Linked DNA regions of Homo sapiens: region 2 is linked to region 1. The links come from fine-mapping of genetic effects on gene expression. Tissue or cell type: whole blood. Region 1 holds a variant in brackets; the other region holds the start of a gene. All regions are shown on one strand. Distances are between the middles of the regions.

Evidence for each region. PIP is the estimated chance that this variant, and not a neighbour inherited with it, causes the effect.
Region 2: it holds the start of SEMA4B, and the variant in region 1 is fine-mapped to the expression of SEMA4B in whole blood (INTERVAL, PIP above 0.99).

The regions. Positions count from the first base shown.
Region 1 is chr15:90,141,280-90,149,379 of GRCh38, reverse strand. No RefSeq gene overlaps it. Among named protein-coding and RNA genes, the nearest start is that of IDH2, 43 kb to the right of the region's middle. RefSeq lists enhancers at 1-191, 5,305-5,839, 7,389-7,683. The variant T/C (reference allele first, on the strand shown) is at 3,793.
Region 2 is chr15:90,197,152-90,205,251 of GRCh38, reverse strand. It overlaps SEMA4B (semaphorin 4B), which reads right to left and starts at 3,922. Exons shown (of 14, transcript NM_198925.4): 1 at 3,517-3,922. The coding sequence starts at 3,673. RefSeq lists a silencer at 3,471-4,230 and an enhancer at 3,403-4,374.

The sequences.
Region 1 (8,100 bases):
AACAGAACCTGTGGCCCCAGAAATGTTTCCCCTTGAGCTGAAGCTTATCAGAGAACAGAAAGATAGGTGGAACCACGTTCCAGTGTAGATGAAACTGACCAATATGATAAGAAAATGAAACTGTGAACATGTATGAGTAAGCCCCAGGGTTTTGTGTGGCCATCTTCAGGGACTCTTGTAGGCAGTGACGACATGGTAGGCTTGGGAAGCTCTCTGGGCTCACTCCTACATTCTCTGAACACTAGACTGTAAGTAGTAGAGAAGTAAGGGCTCTTGCCTATATATTGGATTATTGTTTTCTTTCTTTCTTTCTTCCCTCCTTCCTTCCTTCCTTCCTCTCTCTCTCTTTCTTTCTTTCTTTCTTTTTGAGATAGAGTCTTGCTCTGTCACCCAGGCTGGAGTGCAGTGGCGCAATCTTGGCTTGCTGCAACCTCCGCCTCCAGGGTTCAAGCAGATTCTCCTGCTTCAGCCTCCCAAGTAGCTGAGACTACAGGCACGCACCACCACACCTGGCTAATTTTTGTATTTTTAGTAGAGATGGGGTTTCACCATGTTGGCCAGGCTGGTCTTGAACTCCTGACCTCAAGTGGTCTGCCTGCCTCGGCCTCCCAAAGTGCCGGGATTACAGGTGTGAGCCACTGCACCCAGCTGCAAGCAGCTTTTTGATGACCTCCTATGGGAGATGAGATTTGTGAAGCTGACAGCATAGCACAGTTGTTAGGACACCAGACTGTGGACCCTCAGTTGGCTGACCTTGGTGGCTCAGATTCCAGCTCAGCCCTTTTCTTTCTGGGTAGCAATGGGCAAAGTGCTGAAGCACTTTCTGTGTAAATTTTCTCATCTGTAAAATGAGGATAACAAAAGCACAGTTGTGAGGACTAACACAGCTAAAGCACTTAGACAGCTGCATCTAATAGTGTAGCCATCAGCCACAGTACCTACTGAGCACTTGAAATGTGGCTTGTCTATCCCAGCTACTTGGGAGGCTGAGGCAAGGAGAATTGCTTGAACCTGGGAGGCGGAGGTTGCAGTGAGCTGAGATCGTAACAATGCGAGACTCCATCTCAAAAAAAAAAAAGAAAAAGTAAAACAAAAAGAAAACGTGGTTTGTCTAAACTGAGATGTACCCTGCGTGGTGCTCGCGCCTGTAATCCCAACACTTTGGGAGGCTGAGTCGGGAGGCCAGGCACAGTGGCTCACACCTGTAATCCCAACAGTTTGAGAAGCTGAGGCGGGAGGATCGCTTGAGCCCAGGAGTTTGTGACCAGCCTGGACAACATGGTGAGACCCTGTCTCTACAAAAAAAAAAAAAAAAATTTAAAAATTAGCCTGGTGTGGTGGCATGTGCCTGTAGTCTCAGCTACTCGGGAGGCTGAGGAAGGAGGACTGCTTGAGTTTAGAAGGTCAAAGCTGCAGTGAGCCATGATTGTGCCACTGCACTCCAGCCAGGGTGACAGAGTGAGACCCTGTCTCAAAAAAACAAAACAAACAAAAAAACCCTGAAATGTGATGTATGCATAAATTCACATCGGATTTTGAAGACTTCATACAAAAAAGGCCAGGTGCAATAGCTCATACCTGTAATCCCAGCACTTTGGGAGGCTGAGGTGGGTGGATTGTTTGAGTCCAGGAGTTTGAGACCAGCCTGGGCAACATCGTGAAACCCCATCTTTACAAAAAATACAAAACATTATCAGGGCCTGGTGGTACGCGCCTATAGTCCCAACTACTCGGGAGGCTGAGGTGGAAGGATCACCTGAGCCTAGGGGAGGTCAAGGATGTAGTGAGTTGTGATCGTGCCACACTCCAGTCTAGGCAACAGAGTGAGACCCTGTCTCAAAAAAAAGTAAAATAACTCCCTAATTATTGATTATATTGGGTTACATAGAATATATTGTAATACATAGAATATATTATTTGTTTGTTTGTTTTTGAGATGGAGTCTCACTCTGTTGCCCAGGCTGGAGTGTAGTGGCACCATCTCGGCTCACTGCAACCTCCACCTCCAGGCTGGAGTGTAGTGGCACCATCTCGGCTCACTGCAACCTCCACCTCCAGGCTTCAACCGGTTCTTCTGCCTCAGCCTCCTGAGTAGCTGGGATTACAGGCGTATGCCATCACGCCTGGCTAATTTTTGTATTTTTGGTAGAGACGGGCTTTCCCCATATTGGCCAGGCTGGTCTTGAACTTCTGACCTCAAGTGATCTGCCTGCCTCAGCCTCCCAAACTGCTGGGAGGACAGGAGTGAGCCACCACACTCAGTCTAAATAGAATATATTATTACAATTAATTTCACCAGTGGGTTTTTTGTTTTTACTTTTAAAAATGCAGCTACTAGAGTTTTTAAAACTACGCTCTTTTCTGCCATGGTGAAAAGTAAATTAATAAATTAAAAAACAACTACTAGGCCAGGCGCAGTGGCTCACGCCTGTAATCCTAGCACTTTGGGAGGCCGAGGCGGGCGGATCACCTGAGGTCTGGAGTTTGAGACCAGCCTGACCAACATGGAGAAACCCCATCTCCACTAAAAATACAAAATTAGCCGGGCATGGTGGCACATGCCTGTAATCCCAGCTACTCGGGAGGCTGAGGCAGGAGAGTCACTTGAACCCGGGAGGCGGAGGTTGCGGTGAGCCAAGATCACACTATTGCACTCCAGCCTGGGCAACAAGAGTGAAACTCCATCTCAAAAAAAACCCAAAAACAAACATTAACAACAACAACAAAACTACCTATGTGGCTTGCATTATGTGTTTATTGGACAGCAGCTGCTTAGAACAAGCCTGGTGTGGAGTAAGTCAGTGTAATTGTTAGCTGCTGTCAGTGTTCAGTGCCTGACACGTGGTAAGGGCTTATTGAAGAGCAGTTTTTTGGTTTTTGTTTTGTTTTGAAATGGAGTCTAGTTCTTTCACCCAGGCTGGAGTGCGGTGGTGCGATCTCAGCTCACTGCAACCTCCGCCTCCCAGGTTCAAGTGATTCTCATGCCTCAGCCTCCTGAGTAGCTGGGATTACAGGTGCTCCCCACCATGCCTGGCTAATTTTTGTATTTTTAGTAGAGACCGGGTTTCACCATGTTGGCCAGGCTGGTCTCAAACTACTGAACTCAGGCAATCTGCCTGCCTTAAACTCCCAAAGTGCTAGGATTATGAGCATGAGCAACCATGCCTGGCCTGTTTTTTTTTTTTTTCTTTTTTTGTGACAGGGTCTCACTTTGTCGTCCAGGCTGAATGAGTGTAGTGGTGTGATGTCAGCTCACTGCAGCCTAGATGTTCTGGGCTCACACAGTCCTCTCACCTCAGCCTTCTGAATAGCTCTGACTATAGGCATACACCACCATGTCCTGCTAAGTTTTCTACTTTTTTAGAGACGGGGTCTTGCTATGTTGCCCAGGCTGGTCGCAAACTCCTAGGCTCAAGCGATCCTCCTGCCTCAACTTCCCAAAGTGTTGGGATTACAGGTGGAGAGCCACTGTGCCTGGCCTTGAATGGCAGTTTTGAAGACTTCTCTCCATCCCCTCTCTTGCCTCTCTGCCTTGGCAATCCAACCTGGAAAGCATTGTCTGTTTCCTTCCCAGCTTGTCCTATTCACCGGCAGTGAGAGCCCTGTCTTTCCTTTGATCCTCCCAACTCCCAGTGCCTCTCCAGGGGTGCTGAGCCCCCCAGTGGATTTCCATGCTGGTGGGACTTTCTGGGTGTCCAGTTTCCCATCACCTCCCCTCTCCCACCAGCTCTGGGCCCGAGTACCTCTGCGTTCCCCCGGAGTCCACCCACCTGGGGTGTTGTGATCACTCTT[T/C]GCCATCGTCACTCTCGGGTTTTCTCCTTAGGCCCTGCTCTTCTGAGGCTTGATCTGTGATGCCGGGAGAGGTGGGACGCTGCCAGAAGGGGCTACTGGCAGGCTGCCAAGAGGCTGCCCACAGAGGCCTTTGCCCTGACAAATTCACCCCTGGGGCCCTGGGTCTGCCCTCCGCCTGGCAGCTGGTGGAGAGGAGAGCCAGGTCCCAGCTGTGGACTCAGACTAATCAATTGCTCAGGAGGCCAATATATACACCAGGTGGTAAGTTTCCAATGCATTTAGCAGGGTGAGACCGGTTTTTGTTTAGGAAAATATCTTGATAGCCACTTTTGTTGAGGAAGGGGAGGTGCTAAGGACATAGTTGAAGGAAGATGTTTAAACACAGGAGGAATCAAACGGCTTTACAGAGAACGTTAACCGGAACTTGGGGGCGAGGGACCCCAAAAGAGAAGAAGAAATGGAAAGATGGTCATAGAAATGAAGGGTGAAGGAGGGAGGAGGGAGGGAGAAAACAAAATGGCAAGGGCAGAGCCTGGGAGGTATGTGTCCACTGAGAATTTCACAGTGGCGGGGAGACCAAAGGGCTTTTTTTTTTTTTTTGAGACTCTTGTTGCCCAGGCTGGAGTGCAATGGCGTGATCTCAGCTCACTGCAACCTCCGCCTCTGGGTTCAAGTGATTCTCCTACCTCAGCCTCCCGAGTAGCTCGGATTACGGGCATGTGCTGCCACACCCAGCTAATTTTGTATTTTTAGTAAGATGGAGTTTCTCGATGTTGGTCATGTTGGTCTTGAACTCCCAACCTCAGGTGATCCGCCCGCCTCAGCCTCCCAAAGTGTTGGGATCACAGGAGTGAGCCACTGCACCCAGCCTCGAAGGACTTTTTTTTTTTCTTTTCTTTTTTTTTTTTTGGTGATGGAGTCTTGCTCTGTGGCCCAGGCTGGAGTACAGTGGTGCGATCTCAGCTCACTACAGCTTCTGCCTCCCAGGTTCAAGCAATTCTCCTGCCTCAGCCTCCTGAGTAGCTGGGACTACGGGCGCATGCCACCACCCCCGGCTAATTCTTTAATTTTTAGTAAAGACGGGGTTTCACCATGTTGGCCAGGCTGGTCTCGAACTCTTGTCCTTGTGATCTGCCTGTCTTGGCCTCCCAAAGTGTTGGGATTACAGGCATGAGCCACCATGCCAGACCTCAAAGGACTTTTAAGAACAGGATCTGTACTATTCTTTTTGAAATGGTTTGTTTTCCTACTAAGTACACCCCAGTACACCCCTCTATTGCCCAAGCCTTCAGTAAAAGCTGTAGCTCATGTGACAAGAAAGCATAGAAAGGCCGGGCACGGTGGCTCACACCTGTAATCCCAGCACTTTCACTTTGGGAGGCTGAGGCGGGTGGGTCACCTGAGGTCAGGAGTTTGAGACCAGCCTGGCCAACATGGTGAAACCGCATCTCCATTAAAAATACGAAAAAGCCGGGCGTTGTGGCTCACGCCTGTAATCCCAGCACTTTGGGAGGCCAAGGTGGGTGGATCACGAGGTCAAAAGTTCAAGACCAGCCTGATCAACATGGTGAAACCCCATCTCTACCAGAAATACAAAAATTAGCCGGGTGTGGTGGCGGGTGTCTGTAGTCCCAGCTACTCGGGAGGCTGAGACAGGAGAATCGCTTGAACCTGGGAGGCAGAGGTTACAGTGAGCTGAGATCACGTCACTGCACTCCAGTCTGGGTGACAGAAAAAGACTGTCTCATTAAAAAAAAAAAAGAAAGAAAGAAAAGAAAGAAAAAAGAAAGCATAGAAAGAGGGCTTTTTTTTTTTTTTTTTCTAGGATGGGCACAGAGCAGAGGGACATCACCGGGAAGTGAGAGGCAGGGACTCAGGAGGTCAACACTGCAGGACTGGGGCCAGGGGCACTGGAAAGCCCTCTAGAATCCTGGAAGCAGTGAGGAGAATGTCCGGGGCCCGACTGCCATGGGCTAGGAGTAGGAGGAGACTCGATTTAGAGCTCGAAGGCTAGGGCCACCCAAGCTGTGCAACTGGGCCCAGCCTGGGCAGCTGTCATGCTCGGGCACTTTGTCCCTATCCAGCCTTACCTCATGGCCAGACCAGCATAAAAAACAGGCCTGCGGGGAGGGCCTGGCGGGACTGAGTCTTGTCAAGGAGTAATCTGGGGCTGCACACAGCTGGCCCTGGCTGTGGTGTGATAAAGGACTCGCCCCAGCCAGGGGCTCAGCCCACTGCCCCTCCCCAGGTAGACACTGCCACCTTCTGGCTGTTCGTCAACTGGCTGCCGGCCCCCGCCTCCTCCACACCTCCTTCAAGACAGGCTTTCTCCTCACCAAGAAACAGAATTGTGGAGGTTTCCTTTACCTGCTTACAATCCTGTCTTCCCGGGCTCCCATAAGGTCACTTGAATTAGAGTCTGGGTGATCCCAACCTTTAAAAACAACTTTACAAAACAATCTTTTGAGAGTACCTCTAAAGTGTTCTCGTTTTTTTTAAAAAAATGGGTAACAACGGTAACTATGGGAGGTGATGAGTGTGTCAATCAGCTTGATTGTCATAATCATCTCACGTGTCCATATACCAAGTCATCACGTTGTATGCTTTTAATATGTATACTTTTATTTGTCAATTGTATTTCAACAAAGCAGAAAAAAACCACTCTAGTCTTTTGGTCTCCTCCCACTGATGGCTTCCCACAACTGTCGCTGCCTCATTTTTCAGTTGATTGGGGGCAGGGCCCCACGGTGTGGTGTCACCGTCACTGGTATAAAGGCATTTGAGGCTACAGACACTGTTCCTGGTCGTTCCTCCTTGGTTTTTGTTGTTTTGTTTGCTGGTTGGTGGGGTGTTTTTCTTTTTGTCTTTTTTTTTTTTTTTGAGACGGAGCCTTGCTCTGTCACCCAGGCTGCAGTGCAATGGTGTGATCTCAGCTCACTGCAACCTCTGCCTCCCTAGTTCAAGAGATTCTCCTGCCTCAGTCTCCCAAGTAGCTGGGATTACAGGCACCCACCACCACACCCGGCTAATTTTTGTATTTTTAGTAGAGACTGAGTTTCACCATGTTGGCCAGACTGGTCTAGAACTCTTGACCTTGTGATCTGCCCACCTCAGCCTCCCAAAGTGCCGGGATTACAGGTGTGAGCCGCGGCGCCCAGCCGGTGGGGTGTTTTTTGCTGGGATTCCCCGGGCCTCTCCACTACTGTGCTCTGCGCCGGCGGGTTTGCCGGGATCCCCGTAACCAGCTTCTTGAGTTTATCAAGGTGTTTGTCTCCCTCCACAGCAACAGTTTGTTAATTTTCTCTCTCTCCTTACCTGAATATGGGGAAATGCTTTCCTGCCTTTCCTCCTGAGAATCACTCTATCCTGGCCAAAAACCCTTTGTTTTGGTCTCTCCAAGTCAGTGCTGAAACCCAAGCTTTCTCCACCAAAGGGAGTCCCAGCTCTTCACCTCCCAAATCTTCCCGTTCCCAAGTCCCAAACAGGGAAGAGAGCTCGGGCAACTGTGGAGATTGGAGTCTTGCCTTAGACTCCAAGGACCAGGCCCTTGTCCAGGGAAGCCCTTGGTCCTGTGGAATCTGCAGGGGTGGGGGTGGGGAGACTGCTGGAGAGACCTCTGGGTGACACGTTCCCCCCGACACAATGGAAACTCACATGGTCCAGCTGTCCATCCTCCACGGGCTCCACTCCCCACCCGTCCCTGGCTTGCAGATCCTCTTAACACGGCATGTTTCCTTCCCTCCCCTCCACAGAGTTGGCTGACTCATTAGGCACTTCCCACAGTCCAGTTCCTTCATCCCCCTGCCGCTCCTGCCACAAGCTTGCTGCTGGAGTCTGGAGGACCTCAAATATTTCCAAGGACGTCAGACTTTGGGAGGCTGAGGACTTCACGGCCCGAGGGGAGAGCAAGCCGTCCGGCCGCTGAGACCCACTCAGAGCACGAACAGGGCAGGTGCTCAGAGGGCTCGCCCTCCCATCCACCCCAAACTGGCTGTTGGACATTCTAGTGTTGACCGAGAGAAAGAAGCTGAGGCAAAATCAATATACAGGGTTAATTTGGGCCAAGAGTGAGGACAGCCATTGGGGACACACTTCAAGTTGCCTTGGGGTACGCTGTGTGTTCGGCTTTTGTTACAAGCAGGCCTTTAAAGGCAAAAGGGGACAAGGAGTGGGTGATTCAACAATGTTCTTATTAGTTTGCAGGAATAACATTGGCTTGTGATTGGCTATGCATTGTTGAGCTATGGGGTATGAGTTATAGTGTCTGGAATATGGCATTTTATGGCTATGTGGTGGTGTCAGTTAGTC
Region 2 (8,100 bases), 56 kb before region 1:
GCCAGAGGGCAAGCAGCTGATTTGTGCCAAATGCTCCATTCTCTCTGCTCAATGGCGTTTTGTTGACTGCAGTTTGCAGGCCTGCAGATTTCTGTCCAATCTGCTTCAGAAATACTGCGTCCAGAGCTTTCCCGCCCGGCACTTCTGGGGCAGGAGGGAATTAATAACTCCCTTTAAGGCCGGATGTGGTGGCTCATGCCTGTAATCCCAGCACTTTGGGAGGCCAAGATGGGCAGATCACCTAAGGTCAGAAGTTCGAGACCAGCCTGGACAACATGGTGAAATCCCATCTCTACAAAAATACAAAAATTAGCTAAGCATGGTGGCGGGCACCTGTAGTCTCAGCTGCTCGAGAGGCTGAGGCAGGAGAATCACTTGAACTTGGGAGGTGGAGGCTGCAGTGAGCGGAGATGGCATCACTGTACTCCAGCCTGGGAGACAGAGCGAAACTCCATCTCAAAATAACAATAATAATAACTCCCATTAAGTGTCCAAATAAGGTGGCCCAAAAAGACTTTGGAGGGCCATGAGAGGAGGCGTGTTTTGTTTCTCCCCACGTGGCCAGGCTGGGAAGCACTGGGCGCCATTGTTTCTACTCAGCACCACTCCTGCTCCTGACCGAGGCTTTGGTCCTGGAGCTCTGCATGGTAGTTCCAACGCAAGAGAACCCAAATTCCACACACTTCTTTGAAGTGTTCCTTTCAGAGATTTCCAGCTGACTGTGGAGCCCCCAGTGGCTGTCCCCTCATCCTCCTCTCCCTACTGGCCACTGGGCGAGGCCACAAATCGGCTCCCTGCATCTTAAGCACCCCAGGAATGTGCTGTTCATCAACAATAATTAGGGTTCCCTATGAAGGACCCCAGATGCAGGGCAAGCTGGACGCTCCACTTCAAGGGATTTTGTTTTAAACCACAGACATAGCCCCACTGTCCCTAGGCATCTGGGTCCTTACGGGGCATGGGTGGGAATTCAGTAGAGGAGTGAGTGGCAGGAGGAAAGAGGGGTGTGTAATATCCAGTTCCATGACTCTTTCTCCTAAGATGCATGCAAGGGAGGGCACTAGGGCCCTGGGCCCGGCGTCCCATGGTCACCACGAGCCTGCCCAGGATGGGCACACTGCCAGGAACATCTAATGAGCCCCCTGGGATGAGGCAGGAAACCGCCTTAGGCCACACTCAAGGGTGAGCCTGTTCAGTTACCAGGGCATTCCCCTCTCGGACTCCCAGCCAGCCCTAGGACCTGCACGTAGGTAAGAGTAGGAGGTGGGTATGAGGGCCAGGAGGAAGCCCAGAGAGGGGGCACTCCAGGGTATAGTGGCAACTCAGTCGACTATAGATACGTGCTCACAAGTTCAGGTAGCTAGGTGCCACTACACTATTCCAGGGCTTTGGTGGGACTGGAAAAATGGGCCACTCCGGGCAGACCTAGCCCCAAGAACATAGCAGAAGGGGTCTTTTGCTCCAGGACTCTTAGGTTGGAGAGCTGAGTGTGGACTGCATTTCAGGTCCTCTCAACCCTCAGCTGGGCACCTTGGTACAATGCACAAAATGCAAGCCCACCTACGGCAGCCCTGACAGGTGAATGCTGGTGCGTGACAGAAGCCTGGGAACAGTCACGGGCTTGTAGAAGTGGACCAGGTCCTGCAGCTGCATTGGTAATAATAACCAAGTATTCTAGCTGCTCCTCGGGAAGCAGGTCCCCTCGATTCCCCTCGCTGCTCTCCAGTTTTGCCTTCTAGCTACCCTGTGATTGTCCCATCCAGTTCCAGAGTTGGACATGAAACCTACCGTCTTTTGACATGGTCCCATGAGCTGGCCCAGCTTTCCCAAGGCCATAAGTGGAGTCCATTGGAGCATCTGCCCCCATCTCACCCTGCCTTCTCCCAAAAATGAGAGGGTCTGAGGGCAAAGGGAGTTGTGGCCACAACAGAAGTAGCAAGACAGCAGGCCTGGGGCTGGTTACACCTGTTCATCCTGACTTCACAAGCTGAAGCACCCAAGGGGCTACAGTCAAACTAACACCCCAACCCTGTCCTAACCCCAGGCAGAATCACCCCAGATCTGGGCAAGATGTACAGAAGTAAACTCTGAGCTGAGTAACACTCATTCAGCGGTTCCCGTACCAGGCCCTGTCCTAACGACTTTTCAAACACGAGCTGATTTAATCCTCACTACCTTGAGGTAGGTTCTGTTATTATACCTGTTTTACAGATGAAGAAATCAAGACCCAGAAACTTTAAGTAGCCTGCTCAAGGTCACATGGTTACTAAGTGGCTGAGGTAGCATTTGAACCCAGGTCATCTGCAGTATTTCAGACAGGGGTTCAGGTAGGGTTACTTGAAGCCGCTAGGGCCCTGCCTTAATTTAAGTGCTGATTCTACTATTTCCCTTTGTAAACAGGATGCTTTTAGAGGTGGGGATGCTGTGAGGAGATGGAAGTCTGGGACAGTTTCAGTCTGTAACCTCTAATTCATACATGCTTTATTCCAAGTCATACAATATGACAACCAACAAGTTAAAGGGCTTGCGGATACATCTGTTGGGCACTTATAAACTTCATACCCGAGTAACACACCTTGCAAGGCACCTACGACTGCCTATTTTGCAGATGAGAAAGGTGGGGCACTGGGAGCAGAAGGCACTTACTTGCCCAGTGGAAGAAATGGGCTTGGGATCCAGGACCCTCTGAATCTAAAGCCCAAGTGCCCCAAGAAGAGCTGGAGAAGCAACCGGATGGAAGGGAAAAGGAGAGGGAAGGGCGGAGGGCTGAAACAGGAGGTGGCCACAGAAGCAGATGTGAGGACCAGGAAAGGAACCCAGCCAACCAGGATGCTACTCCCAGGTCACTCTGAGGAGGGGTCGCGCCCAGGACTTGGGAATGTCAGCGCCCAGAGCTGCCCCCATCCGCAGTCTGTTCGCTCCCAGGACTTGGGAATGTCAGCGCCCAGAGCTGCCCCCATCCGCAGTCTGGTCGCTCCCAGGGCCTGGAGGTCTCTCCATGCTGGGGCTTGGGGCTGCACTGGCAAGCCAGGGATGGAGGGGCGGAGAGGGAGGATCGGGCGCCTGCCCGCCCACCACAGCTCCCGGCCCTGCTGCGACTTGCTGGGAATACCAGAACCCCAGTGTTTATAGGACTGCAAGCAGTGGCCTCCCTCTACCCCGAGCCGCCCTCGGGGGCGGCACCGCGGTCGGCTCTGGTCAGCATCAAAGACAAGTAGATGGGCAGGCGGACCCCGCCGAAAGTGCATCCTCCTAAGGGAACTAGGGGGGACGACAGAGCGGGCTAGACCCCATCCCTACGCAGAAAGAAAACTGAAGAAAGGGGCCAGCGGCCCCACAGCTCCCCTCTCCTCTCCCTCCCTCCGCGCAGCGCCTTGAAAAAAGAAGGGGTCCTAATGGATCCCGTGCCTCCGACAGGTCCCCTCCTTGGTCCTTTGTCACGGCCACCTCCGCACGAGGCACGTCCCCGGCAGCCTTCCTTCCCCCGGCCCGCGTCCCCGGGTCCCCGGCACTCACCCAGAGGCAGGCTGATCCGGGGGCTGAGCGCCCAGGTCGGAGGCGGCGGCTGCAGCAGGAGCAGCAGCAGCAGGAGCAGCAGCAGCGGTGGCCGAGGCGGCAGCGCGCCCCATGGGGCGGCGAGCCAGCTCCTCAGGCCCATCGCGGTGCGCAGCATTCGGAGAGCAGGAGCGACGGTGTCCCGCGGCTCGGGCTCAGGTGGCTCGGCCGGACTCACGGGCGGCAGCTCCGCCCCGCGGTCCGCCCCCGAGTCGCCCCGGGGGCCCCCGCCTCCGGACCTGGGGGGCGGGAGGTGGGAAACAGGGTCAAGTGGGCCCTGGCAAACTCAGCCCCTCCGCGGGGCACCGCAGTCCTCCCGCCGGCGCCGGCCCCGCAGCCTCGGCTTGGGCAGAGCTCACCCGCAAGCGGCGGAGGGCGGGGCTGAAGGAGGAAGTCGGCCGTGAGCCCGGCCGGCCCGCCCCCTTCCCCCTTCCTCCTTCCCGGGCGCTGGCAGCGCGAGGGGCGGCAGCTCGGGGCGCTGCCGCAGGGGCCAAGCCCGGGATCAGTAGCCCCGGCGGCCGCCGGAGCGCTGGGACGCGGACGAAAGCCGACCCCCAGCTCCCCGCCCCCACTGCTCAGACCCTCCCACCGCCGCCCAGGCCCTGGCCCCTTCCGGCTCCTCTGGGACCCTCTGCTAGTGGCGTTGGTTTGGGGACACGCTGCGTCCCCGCTATGCGCCTAGGGAGTTAGGGGGCGGATGGTGATTAGGCCTTGGTCTCCTCCCTTTAGGCGCCCCCTCCGCTCTTGCTCCTGGCGACCCCCTTGTTCCTGCGACCAAATGAACTCGGCCGAGCTCGTGCTGACACTGGGGCTAGCAGCTTGAGAGTCCAATTTTTGCACAGGTCAATCCACTGCAAGTCATGGCTGGGCATTCACTACAAGCTCAGCACTTAGTCTAGGCACCCTGCGGGCTTGTCCGCTTAATATTCTGTCCACGCGAAGCCCTCGGGTGGGGGAAGGGCAAGATTAGCTTAAGTGGGATAATAGGATTTAATGTACTGCTGAGGAGGTAAAACCTTCACAACCTGCACGTGACCCGGCAGGGGAAGGGAACCCCTAAGACTGGAGTGGAAGCCCAGAGGCACCCACCCCTAATCCTCCTGGCTCCTAACATCTCCACGGGTGGAGTTCAGCTCTGCTGAGACCAGGGGTTTCCAACTGCAGCCTGGACCATTAGCAGATTCTGAAATCAATTTAGTGGATCCCAACAGCATTAAGAAACAAACAAAACATAGAAACTATCTAAGCAATAATCTCAAAGGATAAGTAATTTTGGGAAAGCTACTTCAACTTTTCCTAAGTGTGCACAGGATTACAGAAAAATGTAGTAGTTCCTCCTGTAGTTAAGAGTCCAAAAGAGTGAAAGCCTCTGCTAGTTATTTCCATGGCAGTAGAGACCATCGCTCCATAAATTTGCTGCAATTGCAGGAAAGCTCCTCTTCACCCCCAGCCAAAATCAGCCTCCTCAGAGCACCTCTTTTCCTCTCCTCCCGACTTTCAGGGTCTGCCACATCTGCTCCCACAACAGGGATGCTGTCAAGAGGGTGGGCACAGCACCCACATGGTCCCAGGTCTCCTTTCTTACAGCTAAGTTTCCTCATGCTGCATGATTTCTGTACCTCCATCACCTTCTGTGGACATGGTGCAGGCTAGCAGCATCCCTTTTAAAGGGGCTCCCAGAACTGGACACAGAATTCCACATGGGATATGGACAGCACCAAGCACCCACAGTGCTACTATTGCCCAGGTTTGGATGCTTACTCTAAATGGGTTCAATCCACCTACAGCCAGTGATACCCAAACCCCTATCTGCCGCCTAGTCCAGCCCTGCTCAGCCCTTAACTCCAAAAGGCCTCAACTTTTTTTTTTTTGAGACAGAGTCTTGCTCTTTTGCCCAGGCTGGAGTGCAATGGTGCAATCTCCACTCACTGCAACCTCTGCCTTCTGGGTTCAAGTGATTCTCCTGCCTCAGCCTCCCGAGTAGCTGAGATTACAGGTTTATGCCACCACACCCCGCTAATTTTTTGTATTTTTAATAGAGACAGGGTTTCACAATGTTGGCCAGGCTGGTCTTGAACTCCTGACCTCGTGATCCACCTGCCTTGGCCTCCCAAAGTGCTGGGATTTCAGGCGTGAGCCACCACACCTGACCCGGCCTCAATATTTCTACTTGGCTGTCTGAAAACCATCTCGAGCCCAACATGTCCCAAACTAAGCTCCTGATCTCTCCCCCTTCTCAAAAATGTGCTCCACCTACAGCCTTCCCCATTTCATTTAATGGCAATTCCATCTTTAAATTGCTCAGGCCAAAACCCTCAGCTCCTCTCATTATCTCACTCCTCACATCCAGTCCATTAGAAAATCTATAATCTGACCACTTCCCAGCTCCCTAGGGCCCAGGCACCACCCTCTTTCTCCTGGTTACTGCAAGGGCCTCCTAACTGTTCTCCCCGTTTCCTCCTTGGTTCCCCTACAATCTATTCTCAACACAGCAGCTGGAGTGAGTCTTTAAAACACAAGCCAGGACAGGGGTGGTGGCTCACGCCTGTAATCCCAGCACTTTGGTGGGCCGAGGCGGGCAGATCACTTGAGGTCAGGAGTTCAAGACCAGCCTGGCCAACATGGTGAATCCCCATCTCTACTAAGAACACAAAAATTAGCTGGGCATGGTGGTGTGTGCCTGTAATCCCAGCTACTCGGGAGGCTGAGGCAGGAGAATTGCTTGAACCGGGGCCTGGGAGGCGGAGGTTGCAGTGAGCTGAGATTGTGCTACTGCACTCCAGCCTGGGCTACAGAGCAAGACTCCATCTTAAACAAAACAACACACAACACAAGCCAGATCAGGGCTTTCCTCTGCTCAAAACCCTCCAAGGGTTCCCCCATCTCATTCACAATGACCTTACTTGGAGTGGTCTGCAAAGCCCTCCATGTCATCCTCACCACCAGTACCACTGCATCCTCTACTACTTTTCCCCTCACTCATCCACACCAGGTACATATATAGTAGCCCGAACCAGCAGGGCCTTTGACCTGGCTGCTCCCTCACCTGGCACACTCTCCCCCTAGATAACCACAGGACTGAGTCCCTTGCTTCCTTTTGCTCATTTATCACCTTGAAGAATCTGAACTTCCTCCTAATATGCCCCTTATCTCCTTAAAAATACCTTGAGATATTTTTTCAGAGCACTCATCACTGAATAACATACGATATATTAGTTATGGTTTTTCTTTATTGTCTGACATCCCATCTCCCCCAGAATGCTGACTGAGAGGGCAGAGATTTTTGCTTATTTGGTTTGTTAAGTAATGTATCTCAAGCCTCTAGAATAGTGCTTGGCACATGGTAAGCAGGACTTCAGTAAGTACTGGATGAATGAATGAATGAATGCAACTTGAGTCACAGAATACTGCTGACTCATGTCAGCTGACAACCAGAACTATTTTTTTTATATCAACTTTGGTCCAATAAAGAGTTTTACCAGCCAGGCGCGGTGGCTCACGCCTGTAATCCCAGCACTTTAGGAGGCCGAGGCAGGCGGATCACGAGGTCAGGAGATCGAGACCATGGTGAAACCCCGTCTCTAATAAAAATACAAAAAAAAATTAGCCGGGCACAGTGGTGGGTGCCTGTAGTCCCAGCTACTCAGGAGGCTGAGGCAGGAGAATGGCGCGAACCCGGGAGGTGGAGCTTGCAGTGAGCCGAGATCACGCCACTGCACTCCAGCCTGGGCCACAGAGCGAGACTCCATCTCAAAAAAAAAAAAAATTAATTAATTAATTAATAATAAAATAAATAAATCTAGTGGTTCTGGCTCAGATGTCATCCCACTGAAGTCATGTTGAAAACTGATTCTATTATCATACATTTGGCTTCCCCTTCCAGTATGGGGTCATCTGTAAACATGATAACCATTCCTTATGCCTTTATTCAAGCTATTGATAAAAATATTGGGTGAGCAGGGCCGGGCATGGTGGCTCACGCCTGTAATCCCAGCACTTTGGGAGGCCGAGGTGCGCGGATCATGAGGTCAGGAGCTCGAGACCATCCTGGCTAACACAGTAAAACCCCATCTCTACTAAAAATACAAAAAATTAGCCGGGCGTGGTGGCGGGCGCCTGTAGTCCCAGCTACTCGGGAGGCTGAGGCAGGAGAATGGCGTGAACCCGGGAGGCGGAGCTTGCAGTGAGCCGAGATCGCGCCACTGCACTCCAGCCTGGGGGACAGAGCGAGACTCCGTCCCAAAAAAACAAAAATTGGGTGAGCAGATCTAGCACCTAAATCTTCGTTTACTTTTTTCTTTTTTATTGAGAGAGGGTCTCACTCTGTCACCCAGGCTGGAGTACAGTGGCAAGATCTCAGCTCACTACAACCTCCACCTCTCAGGCTCAAGCAATCCTTCCACCTGAGCCTCCTGAGTAGCTGGGACTACAGGCATGCACCACCACACTCGGATAATTTTTGTAATTTTTTTGTAGAGAAAGGGGTTTCACCACGTTGCCCAGGCTGGTCTCAAACTCCTGGACTCAAGCGATCTGCCCACCTCG